Linked DNA regions of Homo sapiens. Each later gene encodes a partner of the first gene's protein in a complex. Each region holds a gene or a part of one and is shown in the gene's direction. Other genes may lie near its edges.

Region 1 (7,024 bases):
TTACCAAATAAATTAATCTGGAGTCAGTGATTAAGAAATATTTTATATCTTTCAACACTAGTATGTATTTGGCTGTATCACAGATTCAAAATACTACTTTTAATGAATGGGCTTTACTGTTAAGTTATATCTGAATGATTACTATTTTGAGATCACATTGGATGTAAAATTTTAGATAAATATGTGCTTTTTTTAAATAGCCTGGATCTAAAAAATCAGCAAATGGATCAGATGATAAAGCCAGCTGCAAGGAATCAAAGACAGGAAATCTGGACCCGTTATCTTGCATAAGTAAGCTTCCCTCATCTGTGCTCGAGATAAATTTGCGAACTTTTAATCTCAACAAAGCTCCCCACTCCTTTTGGTTTAAACACAGATTCGCCTATTTTTAGTCATGTTAAAATGTATGTTTTTATTAAATATAGGCACTGCAGATCTTCATAAAATGTATCCTACACCACCATCATTGGAACAACATATTATGGGATTTTCCCCAATGAATATGAATAATAAAGAATATGGTAGTATGGATACAACACCTGGAGGAACTGTTCTAGAAGGAAATAGTTCTAGTATAGGAGCGCAGTTCAAAATTGAGGTTGATGAGGGATTCTGTAGCCCCAAACCTTCTGAAATTAAAGTAAGTATGTTTTTTCTAGAAAAATAATTCACTTCCTATATTTTCTTATAGAATTAATTTGTTGCTATAGTCAAAAATTATTTTATAGTGGTTGCGGTTTTGTAGCTAAGTTGAGGACTGAATTATTGTTGTCACTATTAAGAATGCATTTAAGAAAATAATAGAATTGTATTTAGATTTTATTCTGTTTAAAGAAAGGAAAAAAGGTCCAGAGCCTGTTTGTTTATTTATTTTTTCCTCCTAGAAGATAAGATACTGAAAACCTACCATCTTTATATTGTAGGATTTTTCTTATGTCTATAAGCCTGAAAATTGTCAAATTCTAGTGGGATGTTCCATGTTTGCACCTCTAAAAACTCTACCAAGCCAATATCTGCCCCCTATCAAATTGCCAGAAGAGTGTATTTACCGTCAGAGTTGGACTGTTGGAAAATTGGAATTGCTTTCTTCAGGGCCTTCAATGCCATTCATCAAAGAGGGGTATGATTTATGTTGTTACAATAGTATGTGACTGCTTATACAGCTTTAATTTTTTTTTCATAGATTTACCTGGTATGCTGGAAAAATAAAATTGGTTTTTGAAAATTCTAAAAATTATTTCTGGTTAATCAATTATAGTGATTGGCTGGGAGCAGTGAATCACGCCTGTAATTCCCATACTTTGGGAGGCCAAGGCAGGCGTATCCCTTGAGGTCAGGAGTTTGAGATCAGCCTGGCCAACATACGAAACCTCGTCTCTACTAAAAATACAAAAATTAGCCAAGCGTGGTGGCGCATGCTTGTAGTCCCAGCTACTTGGGAGGCTGAGGCACAAGAATGGCTTGAACCTGGGAGTCAGGCATTGCAGGGAGCCGAGATCGCACCAGTGCACTCCAGCCTGGGCAAGAGTGAGACTTTGTCTCAAAAAAAAAAAAAAAAAGGTTAATTGGGTATGGATAAACTATTAGGAAACTTAAGACTATTATGCTTGATTTGTATTCCGAAGCACCTTTTCTTTTGGGCTGCAATTTTAAATTGCTCCCATTTTTACATTTGCCATCTTTTCCACACTTTTCACATTTTAACATCTCTGACTTGGTCAGTTTCAACTCAAGGCTAAAAGAAATCTGAATCTGAGATGTCTTATAAGTGGTAGCATTTTAAAATTACCATTTTTCCCTTTTTACACATGAGCATCTCTAAAATCATTTTTCTTTTTTTATAGTCAGTAGCATCTTAGAATCAAGGAAATATAAGTATTTCTAGTAAACAAAATTTATAGATAGTAAATATGGATGTCTAGGTATGCATTAGTGTATAGAGTGCTTATTAATGATTTTTGAACTTGTTAATTGATCCTTAGTCAACAACAATCACTTAGAGTAGATATGTTAACCAGAAATAAGAATTGACTGTGCTTGTAATTCTTGCAATACTTGTCCTTTCATAATTTTCTATGTAATTGAAAAACATTTGGGACGTTTTTAGTTGTATTTCACATTACTAATATGTTCCTTTATATATATATTTGATCTTCTTTTACCCTGGTGATGATAGTGATGGAAGTAATATGGATCAAGAATATGGCACTGCTTATACACCTCAAACTCATACTTCTTTTGGGATGCCTCCTAGCAGTGCACCTCCTAGTAACAGCGGAGCAGGAATTCTTCCTTCTCCATCCACCCCTCGGTTTCCAACTCCAAGGACTCCAAGGACTCCTCGGACTCCTCGTGGAGCTGGTGGACCTGCTAGTGCTCAAGGTTCAGTCAAATATGAAAATTCAGACTTGTATTCACCAGCTTCTACCCCATCTACATGCAGACCCCTTAATTCTGTTGAACCTGCAACTGTCCCTTCCATCCCTGAAGCACACAGTCTTTATGTAAACCTCATCCTTTCAGAATCAGTTATGAATTTGTTTAAAGACTGTAACTTTGATAGTTGTTGCATCTGTGTTTGCAACATGAACATCAAGGGTGCCGATGTTGGAGTTTACATTCCAGATCCAACGCAGGAAGCACAATATAGGTGTACCTGTGGCTTCAGTGCTGTCATGAACAGAAAATTTGGAAACAATTCAGGATTATTTCTTGAAGATGAACTAGATATCATAGGACGCAATACAGACTGTGGCAAAGAAGCAGAAAAACGTTTTGAAGCTCTCAGGGCTACCTCTGCTGAACATGTTAATGGAGGACTAAAGGAATCTGAAAAATTATCTGATGATTTGATATTATTGCTACAAGATCAGTGCACTAATTTATTTTCACCCTTTGGAGCAGCAGACCAAGATCCTTTTCCTAAAAGTGGTGTAATTAGCAATTGGGTACGTGTTGAAGAGCGTGACTGTTGCAATGACTGCTACCTTGCATTAGAACATGGGCGTCAGTTCATGGATAACATGTCAGGAGGAAAAGTTGATGAAGCACTTGTGAAAAGTTCATGCTTACACCCCTGGTCCAAAAGAAACGGTAAAGTATGCCAATAAAATACTTTTTTGTTTGCTTATTTCCCTTTAGTTACATTCTTAGGAAAAAGTAATAAAGGCAGTTTCCCATGTGGCAAATACATTTAAAGTTGGACTTAAAACTCTTTATGGATGATGTTTTTAAAGGGAGAATTTCTTAGCAGTTTAGTTTAATTTCACCAATAAAAGTATGGTTATTATAAATCTGTAATTATATACTTATGTAGGAATATGAAAGGCACATTCCATATATTTATTAGCATAACATTGCTAGTGGTCTGCTTTATTCAACATTCTTTCACTCATTAAGTATTTACTGGGCACCTTGTATGTGCCAGGTATTAGCCTAGATTCACTGTTGAACAAAGCACACATATTCTTTGCCCTTTTTGAATCTATAATTTAGTGGAGAAAATAGGAAATAAACAAAAAAGCATATAATAGATAGTAAGAAGTAATTTGGAGGAAAAGCAGAGTAAAACAGAACAAGACACCACATATGTACTATTTTAGATGTATGGTCAGATAAGATACTACTGAGGAGATAGCATATGGGAAAACTCCTACATAACATAGAATATGAGCTATGTAGTTAAATGAGGGAAGAGTGTTTCAGGCAGTGCAAAGACCCTGAGGGAGTATTTTGCTTTTACATGTTTGAGGAACATTAAGGTGACTGATGCTGCTGGAATGCTTTGTGTGATAGGGAGACTGGAAGGAGATGAAATTTAGGAGGTAGCCATTCACCAGCATCATTTAGAGTCTTATAGACCATGTAAGGCCTTTGTGGTTTATACTAAATGTGATGGGAAGCTATTGAACAGTTTTGACAAGGAAAGTAACATGATCCTTATTCTGATTGTTTTTTAAGAGATCTCTCAGTCTGGCACAGTGGCTCATGCCTGTAATCCCAGCACTTTGGGAGGCTGAGGTAGGCAGGTCACCTGAGGTCAGGAGTTCGAGACCTGCCTGACCAACATAGTGAAATCCCGTCTTTACTAAAAATTTAAAATTAGCTGGGCTTGGTGGTGGGCGCCTATAATCCCAGCTACTCGGGAGGCTAAGGCAGGATAATTACTTGAACCTGGGAGGCGGAAGTTGCAGTGAGCCAAGATCGCACTACTGCACTCCAGCCTGGGCAACAGGAGTGAAACTCCCATCTAAAAGAAAAAAAAAATGGCTGGGTGCGGTGGCTCATGCGTCTAATCCCAGCACTTTGGGAGACTGAGGTGGGCAGATCATGAGGCCAGGAGTTTGAGACCAGCCTGCCCAATATGGTGAAAAATACAAAAATTAGCCAGCATGGTGGGGCGTGCCTGTGGTCCCAGCTGCTCAGGAGGCCAAGGCAGAGGAGTTGCTTGAACCTGGGGGGCGGAGGTTGTGTTGAGCTGAGATAATGCCACTGCACTCCAGCCTGGGCAACAGAGCAAGACACTCTGTTGCTATTGTGTGGAAAATAGCGTTGGGGTTTGGAAGTAGTGAAAGTGAGAACAGAAGCAGGATAAATCAGTTGGAAGGCAGTTTCAGTAGCTTAGGTGAAAGATGATGGTAGCTTAGACAAGATAAGAGGCCAGCGAGATGTAAGTAATAGGTTTTAGGTTATTTGGGAAATAGAACCTACAGGGTTTGCCAAAAGACGTGTAAGGAAAGATGAGGCATCAATAATAGCTTGAGCACCTGGGTGAATGGTAGTACTAACTACAGAGGAGGGAAACACGGGGGAGTAAATCAGATACACATTTGGAGATAATATGTTTTAAATTCAGAGGAATGATTGGGTCTGGAGATAGAAAAATTTTGTGTGTGAGTTATTATGAAAAGCTGTGGATCTGGATGAAATAAACTGTAGAGTAATTGTAGATAGAGTAGTACAAGGATGGAGCTGACATTTATAAGTGGGGAGGGAGAAAAGGCACCAGGAAAGGAAATTGAGAAGGAGGTTGGAGGAAAACCAAGGGAGCATGGTATCCTAGAAATCAGGTATAGGGAATTTTTGTTTGTTTGTTTTTGTTTTGAGACAGAGTCTCGCTCTGTCACCAGGCTGGAGTGCAGTGGCGTGATCTCGGCCCACTGCAACCTCCACCTCCCGGGTTCAAGCAATTCTCCTGCCTCAGCCTCCCAAGTGGCTGGGACTACAGGTGCACGCCACCACACCCGGCTAATTTTTTGTATTTTAGTAGAGACGAGGTTTCACTGTGTTGCCCAGGCTGGTCTCGAACTCCTGAGCTCAGGCAATCCACCTGCCTCGGCCTCCCAAAGTGCTGGGATTACAGGTGTGAGCCACCGTGCCTGGCCCGGGAATATTTAGAAGAGAGTGATCATCTCTATCAAATACTTCGATACATTAAGGTGAAAACTGAGACAGGCTATTGGATGTGACCAAATAGAAGTTGGTGGTCACCTTGATAGGCAGTTTCAGTCAATCTGATTGGAGTGGGTTCACAAAAGAACGGGATGAGAAGCAAACTTAGACAATTTTCTGGGGACTTTTGCTGTAAATAGCAGAGAAATTGCATAATAGGGTTAAAAGAGAGGTTTATTATTATTTTATTAAAGGTGCATTGGGAGTGATCCTATAGAAAGGAATTTTTTTTAATTGACAGATATGGCTTATGGCTGTAATCCCAGCATTTGGGAGGCTGAGGCAGGCAGATCATTTGAGCCCAGGAGTTCAAGACCAGCCTGGTGAACATGGCAAAACCCATCTCTACTAAAAATACAAAAATTAGCTGGGTGTGGTAGCATGCACCTGTAGTCTCAGCTACTTGGGAGGCTGAGGTGGGAGTATAGCTTGAACCTAGGAGGTGGAGGATTCGGTGAACCATGATTGTACCACTGCACTCCAGCCTATTTGACAGAGTGAGATTTTTCTCAAAAAGAAAAAAATGGCCATGTTTGCAGGGTTGAGTAATCATGATAGTACAGATGGAATGTTATATGGCTTCTGAAAATGAATTACAGTTATGTATAACAAATAGATGAATCTTAGTGATACTATTGAGGAGAGGAAGAGGGAACAAGTCCCAGAAGATTACATATAGTCAGATACCCTTTAAAAATACCTCTTTAATGTATTACCGTTAATAAAGTTTTGAAACAAGCACAACTAAATGTATTATTTACATGCACATAAAATTGAGAATATTGGTTAATTCTTGAAATTTCACATGTGTCCAAAAATGACCAAGAGATAGGGATAGGGAGAAACATTTAATAAGATCGTTTTTGGTAATGTTCTAGTTCTTGGGCAGTGAGATTACAGTTGTTCATTTTATTATTAAAGAAAATTTTTGAAATGTAAGAGGACAACACATGGACCAGTGATTAAGTTCATGTATATGACAGTATCAGCATTTATCCAATTATTCATTCTCAGGGACCAAATTTAAAAAGGGAAAGACACAAATAAATATCATAGGTATTCAAAAAAAAGGAAAGATTATTTTAAGCCATATAGAGTAGTTAAGATCATAGGCTGTGGACTCAGACTGCCTGGGTTTGAAACATGACTCTAGCACTATATACTACCATGACTCTAGCACTATATACTACCTGCTACCTTGGGCCAAGTTAGTTAACCTTTCTGTGCCTTGATTTCTTAAAATAGGGTCAATAATAGATTTACTTTACAGGGTATTGAGAGAATCAAATGAAATACAGAGCAGTTGATCCGCCCACCTTGGCCCCCCACAAAGTGCTGGGATTCCAGGCATGAGCCACCCAGGAGTTTGAGACCAGCCTGACCAACCTAGTGAAACCCCATCTCTACTAAAAATACAAAAATTAGCTGGGCATGGTGGCGCATGCCTATAATCCCAGCTACTCGGGAGGCTAAGGCAGGAGAATTGCTTGACCCCATGAGGTGGATATTGCAGTGAGCCCGAGATCCTGCCATTGTACTCCAGCCCAGGCGACAAGAGTGAAACTCGGTCTGA
Region 2 (7,541 bases), on another chromosome or scaffold:
CCGGGCGCGGTGGCTCACGCCTGTAATCCCAGCACTTAGAGAGGCCAAGGCGGGCGGATCACGAGGTCAGGAGACCGAGACCATCCTGGCTAACACGGTGAAACCCCGTCTCTACTAAAAATACAAAAAATTAGCCGGGTGTGGTGGCGGGCGCCTGTAGTCCCAGCTACTCGGGAGGCTGAGGCAGGAGAATGGTGTGAACCCGGGAGGCGGAGCTTGCAGTGAGCCAAGATCGTGCCACTGCACTCCAGCCTGGGCGACAGAGCGAGACTCCGTCTTAAAAAAAAAAAAAAAAATGAAGTTAGTCCATTTAAATAACTTCTGTTTTTGGAAGGCTACATGTCTGGGCATCTGGAAAGGGGTCTAATAATCCAAGTGGGGAGCTATAATGCTACGTATCAATAGGTCATTAACAACAAAGGCAGTGTGTGATAAACACTAAATAAGGGGGAACAGACATTTTGTCTCCACGTTCCAACGGTCCCCCAAATTTGTACTTTGTAGGTGGTTCTCCTTAGTGCCAGACCCTAACTCCAGGTGTCTCCTGTAAGCTGCTCTTGGATGACTCACAGGCACCTCAAATCTCACCCGTTATCAACTAAACTAATTTTCTTTCCCTCCTAGGTCTACACTGCTAACCATCCACAGCTCAGTAAACGGCACCATCGTCCACCCAATGCTAAGCCTGGGAGGTACTCTTGCCTCATCCCCTGCCCTCACCCTCAACACCCAATCAATTACTAAATCATATTCAATTTTACCTCATAGACTGTCTCTCACATGCTTCACAGCCCCATCTAAGCCTAGATCAGCATCATCTCTTGCCTGGATTTATTCAACAGTCGCCCACTGGTCTCTATGTTTCTGACCTTGCTTCCCTCCAACTCATTTTCCACTCTGCAGACGGTCACCTTCCAGAAACACATATTTGATTTGATCAGCCCTGTCCTTAAAATTCTCCAGTAGCTTCCCATTCTTCCCACTGCTGTTAGGATGGTTTTAAAATCTTTTGTAGGCTTGGCTCCCACCTACCTGACCATCATTCATTACCGATTAACCCAGTCATTCAGCAAACACCAAGCACCTACTATATGTGAGGCACTGTTCGGGGTGCTGGCAATATATCCACGAACAACCGAAACCAAAAGACTTTGTTCTATACAGCTTACATTCTAATTGGAGGAGATAGTCTACGACCATACCACCCTGAACGCACCCAATCCTGTCTAAATGGAAGAGACAGACATAAATAAACATATAAATATATTGGGTTAAAAGATAAGTACTATGGGCTGGGTGCAGTGGCTCATGCCTGTAATCCCAGCACTTCGGGAGGCCGAGGCGGGTGGATCACCTGAGGTCAGGAGTTTGAGACCAGGCTGGCCAACATAGCGAAATCCCCAACTCTACTAAAAATACAAAAAAAAAAAAAATTAGCTGGGTGTGGTGGCGGGCGCCTGTAATCCCAGCTACTTGGGAGGCTGAGGCAGGAGAATCGCTTGAACCCGGGAGGTGGAGGTTGCAGTGAGCCGAGATCGTGGTATTGCACTCAGCCTGGGTGACGGAGCGAGACTCTGTCTCAAAAAAAAAAAAAAGATAAGTACTATGAAAAAAAGATAGGGCAGAAATGCTGGGAGTATGGAGATGGAGTAGAGTGCTGCAATCTTAAATGGAGTGGATAGGCCTCTCTGAGAAAGTAACCCTACAAGTGTATGAGAACAAACTATCCCAGAGAGAAGGAACAACCAGGCCAAACCCCCTAATTTCCCACGTTTAAGGCACAATGAAGCCTAAATAGGTGGAGTGGAATGGGCAAAGAGGAAAGCAGTAGAAGAGGTCAGACTGGCAAAGGAGGCAGATCATATAGTGCATTGTAGACCATTGTAATCCCCCACCTGTGAGTACTTTGTAGAGAGTATGAGACACGGCAGGGTGCAGTAGCTCACACCTGTAATCCCAGCACTTTGGGAGGCCAAGGCAGGGAGGGTCGTTTGAGCCCAGGAGTTTGAGACCAAACTGGGCACCACTGTGAGACCTCATCTCTACAAATAATTAAATAATTAGCGGCCAGGTGCGGTGGCTCACGCCTGTAATCCCAGCATTTTGGGAGGCAGAGGTGGACGATGACCTGAAGTCAGGAGTTCAAGACCAGTCTGGCCAACATGGTGAAACCCCATCTCTACTGAAAATACAAAAATTAACTGGATGTGATGGCTCACGCCTGTAATCTCAGCTACTCAGAAGGCTGAGGCAGAAGAATTGCTTGGACCTAGGTGGCAGAGGTTGCAGTGAGCCAAGATTGCGCCACTGCACTACAGCCTGGGCGACAGGCTCAAAAAAAAAAAAAAAGAATTAGTTGGACATGGTGGCACACACCTGTGGTCCCAGCTACGTGGGAGGCTGAGGTGGAAAGACGACTGGAGCCCAGGAGATTGAGGCTGCAGTTAGCTATGATTGTGCCACCGCACTCTATCCTGGGTGACAGAGAGAGAGAGAGACTCTGTCTCAAAAAAAAAAGAAAAAAAGAAAAAACGGAGAATATGAGATACTAACGAGGAGGCTACTGTGATAATCCAGGTGAGAGACTGTGGTGGCTACGACAGGATGGTGTTCCAAAGCGGTGAAAAGTGGTCTCATTTTGGATACACTTTGAAGGCAAAGTCATCAGAATTTCCTTACAGATCAGATGTGGGGAGGGAGAGACAGAGAGAGGAGATGGTGGGGGCAGGGAGAGAGAGGAGTCTAAAGTTTATCTCGAGCAAATGAAAGAATATGCTACTAACTGAGACAGGGAAGGCAATGGTGAGAGAAGCAGGTTTGGAGGGAAGGTCAGGATTTCTGTTTTGTACATGTTAAATTTGAGCTGTCTGTTAGATTTCAAATTGGAGATGCCAAATAGGCAGTTGAATATAAGAATCTGGATTTCATGGAAGAGATCAGGGCTAGACTATAAAGTTAGGAGTAGTCACTCAAGGATGGTATTTAAACCATGAAACTTGCCAGCACCAGAGAATATTTGAAGAGGTCAGAGGACTGAGGAGAAGAGGTTGCAATAAGAGTCAGCCAAGGATACTGAGAAGTGAGGTGGCAGTAAAACAGGAGTGTTGATGTCTTAGAACCCAAGTAAGGATACTGTGGCCAGAAGGCCACTATTCAATTGTGTCAAATATTGCTTTAGATGAGATCTGAGAAACGGATGAAGCACCTCAGAGGTCAACACTCCCTCCCTAGTGAGAAAACATCAGACGTCTTTCAATTCATCTCTCTCGCTCTTTGGCTGCTAAACAATGTGTTTTCTGCTCATAACACTTCCCATTCGTTTTTCAGTTCTCAGCTTAAAGGTCCTGCTGCAATCGGAGAAGCTTCTCAAGACCAATGCTATTGTTACCAGGGAAACGATACTTTATCATGGAAATATATTATTCTAAGAGTCTACTTAATTGCCTCTCTGCTGGGCTTGACTGTAAGGTCCTTAAGTTAGACGTGCCTGTGTTGTTTACTTCTGTACCCAAACATTCGATAGAATTCCGAGCATAGCGCAAAGCTCGTAGTGGGTATCCCATAAATATTTACAAAACCAATGGATACATGCTAGGAGCACTTAGTGGCGCGATCGATTACTGTTGGCCTAACTTCGGGGGTGTCTAGAAGGGAGTGCCTAAAACTAGGAGTGGACGCGGAGGGCTCTAGACAGGGTTCAGTCTCCTTTGCAAGTGTAATACGGACCCCTTTGTTGACTCGAAGCAATTCCCCTGCCAGACACTTTTTAGCTGCCCACCCCGCCCCACTACTGGCCACTGTCTTCCTCGGACCTCATCCCAGACACTCACCCAGCCGCGTGGTGCGTTCCCGCGGCGCCGCGGGCTTGTCCCCAGTCCCATGCTCGGCCTCGAGTTCCTCCTGTTGCTGCCGTGCTTGCTGCAAAATCCGTCGGCTCAGCCGGGGCCCCACATACTCTTCCTCCGCTTCTCCTGTCCCGCGACCCCGCCGCTTCTCCCGGACCCCCGCCCGCACCGCATTCCCAGCCAGGATCTGATCGGCCAGGGGCGCATGTTTTTCCTGACCCCCCACCCCACGGGCCGCCTTGAATTTGGGCATTTTTCTCGAAAAAGTTGCCGGGAAGGATCGCACGTGGGGACTGAAGAAAGGCCAGGATGCGCTTGCGCGGTGGACTCCCAGCGCCCAAGAGGCCGCCCGGCGATCACAGCGCCCCCTAGCATTCGGAGGCCAGAAGCGCCATCAGCGCCGCCCCTCCCACTAAAAGAGCTCCCGGGTTCCGGAGCTGGACTCCCGAATATATTCACTGCCTTTAACGTTAGCTTCTCTCAATAGTGCAGTCTTTGAGTGTCGCTCTCCTAGCTTCATGGATGTAGGCCTAGAGTGCTCAGCCAAACGGGAATGTCTGGATTTAGAAACCTCGGGGCGGGAATCCGCAGATGATGTCAGTGGAGGCGTCACCGAGGGGTGCCGAGACACGCCCCATTCCTTGGGGAAGGCGTGGACCCGGCGCTCTGTTTTTACGTATTTCCGGAGTCCCTTCTGAGACAGAAGGTTGTGTTGGGGAACTGAAGGAGTTTCTGTGGGCGGACAGGGAACCCTGCGTTTCTACTGTGTGATTCTGCCACCTTCCTGGCCCGACGCCATGGGAGTGACTTGGTAGGACTGCAGGGGGTTTTGTGGGGCGGGGCTTGGAGTTGTGAAAGGCCGGAAAGAGGACCTTGACCATGGTCCGCCGTCCTCTGGGAGCTGAGGGAGATGTCCTCGGGTTGTGTAGATGAGAGGATGCCGTCCGGGCTGCGGGTTCCCCGGGCTTGTTTCCTCAGAGATGCGCCCCTTCCTCTTGGAAGGCGGGAAAGCAAAGGTTTTTTTTTTGTTTTGTTTTGTTTTTTTTAAGACGGGGTCTCGCTCTGTCGCCAGACTGGAGTGCAGTGGAGCGATCTTGGCTCACTGCAACACTCCGCCTCTTGGGTTCAAGCGATTCTCCTGTAGTCCCGAGTAGCTGGGACTACAGGCGCCCGCCACCACGCCCGGTTACTTTTTGTATTTTTAGTAGAAATGGGGTTTCACCATATTGGCCACGCTGGTGTCGACAAAGCAAACTTTTTATCCCAGGAACCTATCAATGGTTGTATACCTCATTCTCTTCTGGATACATCTTCCTTCCCGTGAGGCCATAGTACTGCCTGCAGTGGGACCTCAGGGTTGGAAATAGGGTCTTTGGACTATGACCCACCTGCAGACAGGGTTGGAGGGAGTGGGCCATAAGCAATCAGGAGATAGTATTTTTTAAGATTTTCGCCTGCTCTTCCCTCAGCCATCAAATACAGTTAGACCCGCTTGTGTCTGTTTCTAATTTGCTCATTTTAAGATCTTGGGTCTAGAGGAAAAAAGGGTATTGATAATAAGGAGATCATGGTTCCAGGCACTTTATCTCTTTAGGACCCGTTTCCCACTATGTTTAATTCCATGGTTGGTCTAGTTTCAATGGAGTTTTTATCTTTCATATGTTTTAAGTCTCAGTTGAAAGAAGATGAGGTGGCAGGGAAAGGTATGGGTCCAGTGCTCGTGGAGGCGTTAGTTGTAAGGTGCCAGGTCCCAGAACATTTTTTTCTTATCTCAGTAGATGTGAGCATTTTTCCCGTGGGAGAAATCCGGAGGCCAGGATATTTGAAGCCAGTGGATATAGGCTTCTCATACAAAAGCATGTGTAGGGGAAATACTTTTCCTCCTGGTAGCCCAGGTTCTTGCAGGTTTCTCAGTGATTGCACTCTTGCTTCCTACGATTGACACGATCCTCCTGTGTTCCTTAATGGAAGCAAGATATGTGAGGAATGGAAATGGAAAGGATGCAGCGTAGAACCCTGGAACCCTTGCTCTTTCTTTTTTTTAAAGAAATAGAAATGGGGTCTTGCTGTTTTGTACATGCAGGTCTTGAATTCCTGAACTCAAGCGAGCCTCCTGCTTTGGTCTCCCAAAGTATTGGCATTATAGACATGAGCCACCGTGCCCAGCCACCCCTGCTCTTTAAATGGAGAAGGCAGCTCCAGGGAAAGGGCTCTCTGTTGGCCCCCTTATCAACGTTTTCAGAATCCTAGGACTTCTGTCACTTGTAGCGTCAGTTTAGGGATTCTTTTGTATTTCAAAATAAGGCACATTAGCAACATCGTTTATCAGTGTTTTTTTCTGATAGAGTAGTGACAATTTTTAGCAACAGAAGGACTCTACCTTAATAGATTCATTTAGTTGATCATAAAGCAATGTCATCTATGACTGTTTTCTTGATTTCTATATAGCTAAGTACTGCTTGTACTATTGTTTATTAATTTTTTAATCGATTTTCCTTAATGTTTTAACAGGCACTACATCCTTATACAGGCAGTCTAGTTAGTGGTTAAGAGCATGGACATCAAGCCAGGTTGCTGGGCTTTGAGTCTTGAGTGTACCACCCATTAACTGTGTGACCTAGTGCAAGTTATTTAACCTCTTTGTGCTGTACTTAAGTTTCCTCTTTTTTTTTTTTTTTTTTTTTTTTGAGGCAGAGTCTCACTCTGTTGCCCAGGCTGGAGTGCAGTGGCGTGATCTCGGCTCACTGCAAGCTCCGCCTCCCGGGTTCATGCCATTCTCCTGCCTCAGCCTCCCGAGTAGCTGGGACTACAGGCGCCCACCACCATGCCTGGCTAATTTTTTTGTATTTTTTTTTTTTTTTTGAGACGGAGTCTCGCTCTGTCGCCCAGGCCGGACTGCGGACTGCAGTGGCGCAATCTCGGCTCACTGCAAGCTCCGCTTCCCGGGTTCACGCCATTCTCCTGCCTCAGCCTCCCGAGTAGCTGGGACTACAGGCGCCCGCCACCGCGCCCGGCTAATTTTTTGTATTTTTAGTAGAGACGGGGTTTCACCTTGTTAGCCAGGATGGTCTCGATCTCCTGACCTCATGATCCACCCGCCTCGGCCTCCCAAAGTGCTGGGATTACAGGCGTGAGCCACCGCGCCCGGCCATTTTTTTGTATTTTTGGTAGAGACGGGGTTTCACCGTGTTAGCCAGGATGGTCTTGATCTCCTGACCTCGTGATCTGCCCGCCTTGGCCTCCCAAAGTGCTGGGATTACAGGCGTGAGCCACCGTGCCTGGCCAAGTTTCGTCTTTTTTTTTTTCTTTTTGAGATGGAGTTTCGCTCTTGTTGTCCAGGCTGGAGGGCAGTGGTGCGATCTTGGCTCACTGCAACCTCCGCCTCCTGGTTTCAAGTGATTCTCCTGCCTCAGCCTCCCATGTAGCTGGGATTACAGGCGCACACCACCATGCCTGGCTAAGTTTTGTATTTTTGGTAGAGACAGGGTTTCACCATGTTGGCTAGGCTGGTCTCGAACTCCTGACCTCAAGTGATCCGCCCACCTCGGCCTCCCAAAGTGCTGGGATTACAGGCGTGAGCCACCATGCCCGGCAGTTTCCTCATTTGTAACAAGTTGATAAATAACACACCTTCATAGGACTATCGTGAGGATTTGGAGAGTTAATTCATCTAAAGGCCTTAGGATGCAGTCTGGC

Evidence for each region. Proteins that work in one complex are often made in the same cells at the same time.
Region 2: MED13 (region 1) and MED20 share a complex: the UniProt entries of both Homo sapiens proteins name them as parts of the mediator complex.

The regions. Positions count from the first base shown.
Region 1 is NC_000017.11:61,978,267-61,985,290, reverse strand, and holds part of MED13 (mediator of RNA polymerase II transcription subunit 13), read left to right. Parts: intron 1-200; coding exon 201-291; intron 292-425; coding exon 426-640; intron 641-923; coding exon 924-1,120; intron 1,121-2,176; coding exon 2,177-3,093; intron 3,094-7,024. UniProt on the Homo sapiens protein: Component of the Mediator complex, a coactivator involved in the regulated transcription of nearly all RNA polymerase II-dependent genes.
Region 2 is NC_000006.12:41,918,120-41,925,660, reverse strand, and holds the start of MED20 (mediator of RNA polymerase II transcription subunit 20), read left to right. Parts: upstream 1-4,521; 5' UTR 4,522-4,642; coding exon 4,643-4,656; intron 4,657-4,717; exon of another isoform or gene 4,718-4,861; intron 4,862-7,541. Other genes in the region: BYSL (bystin), read right to left, coding at 3,831-4,098. UniProt on the Homo sapiens protein: Component of the Mediator complex, a coactivator involved in the regulated transcription of nearly all RNA polymerase II-dependent genes.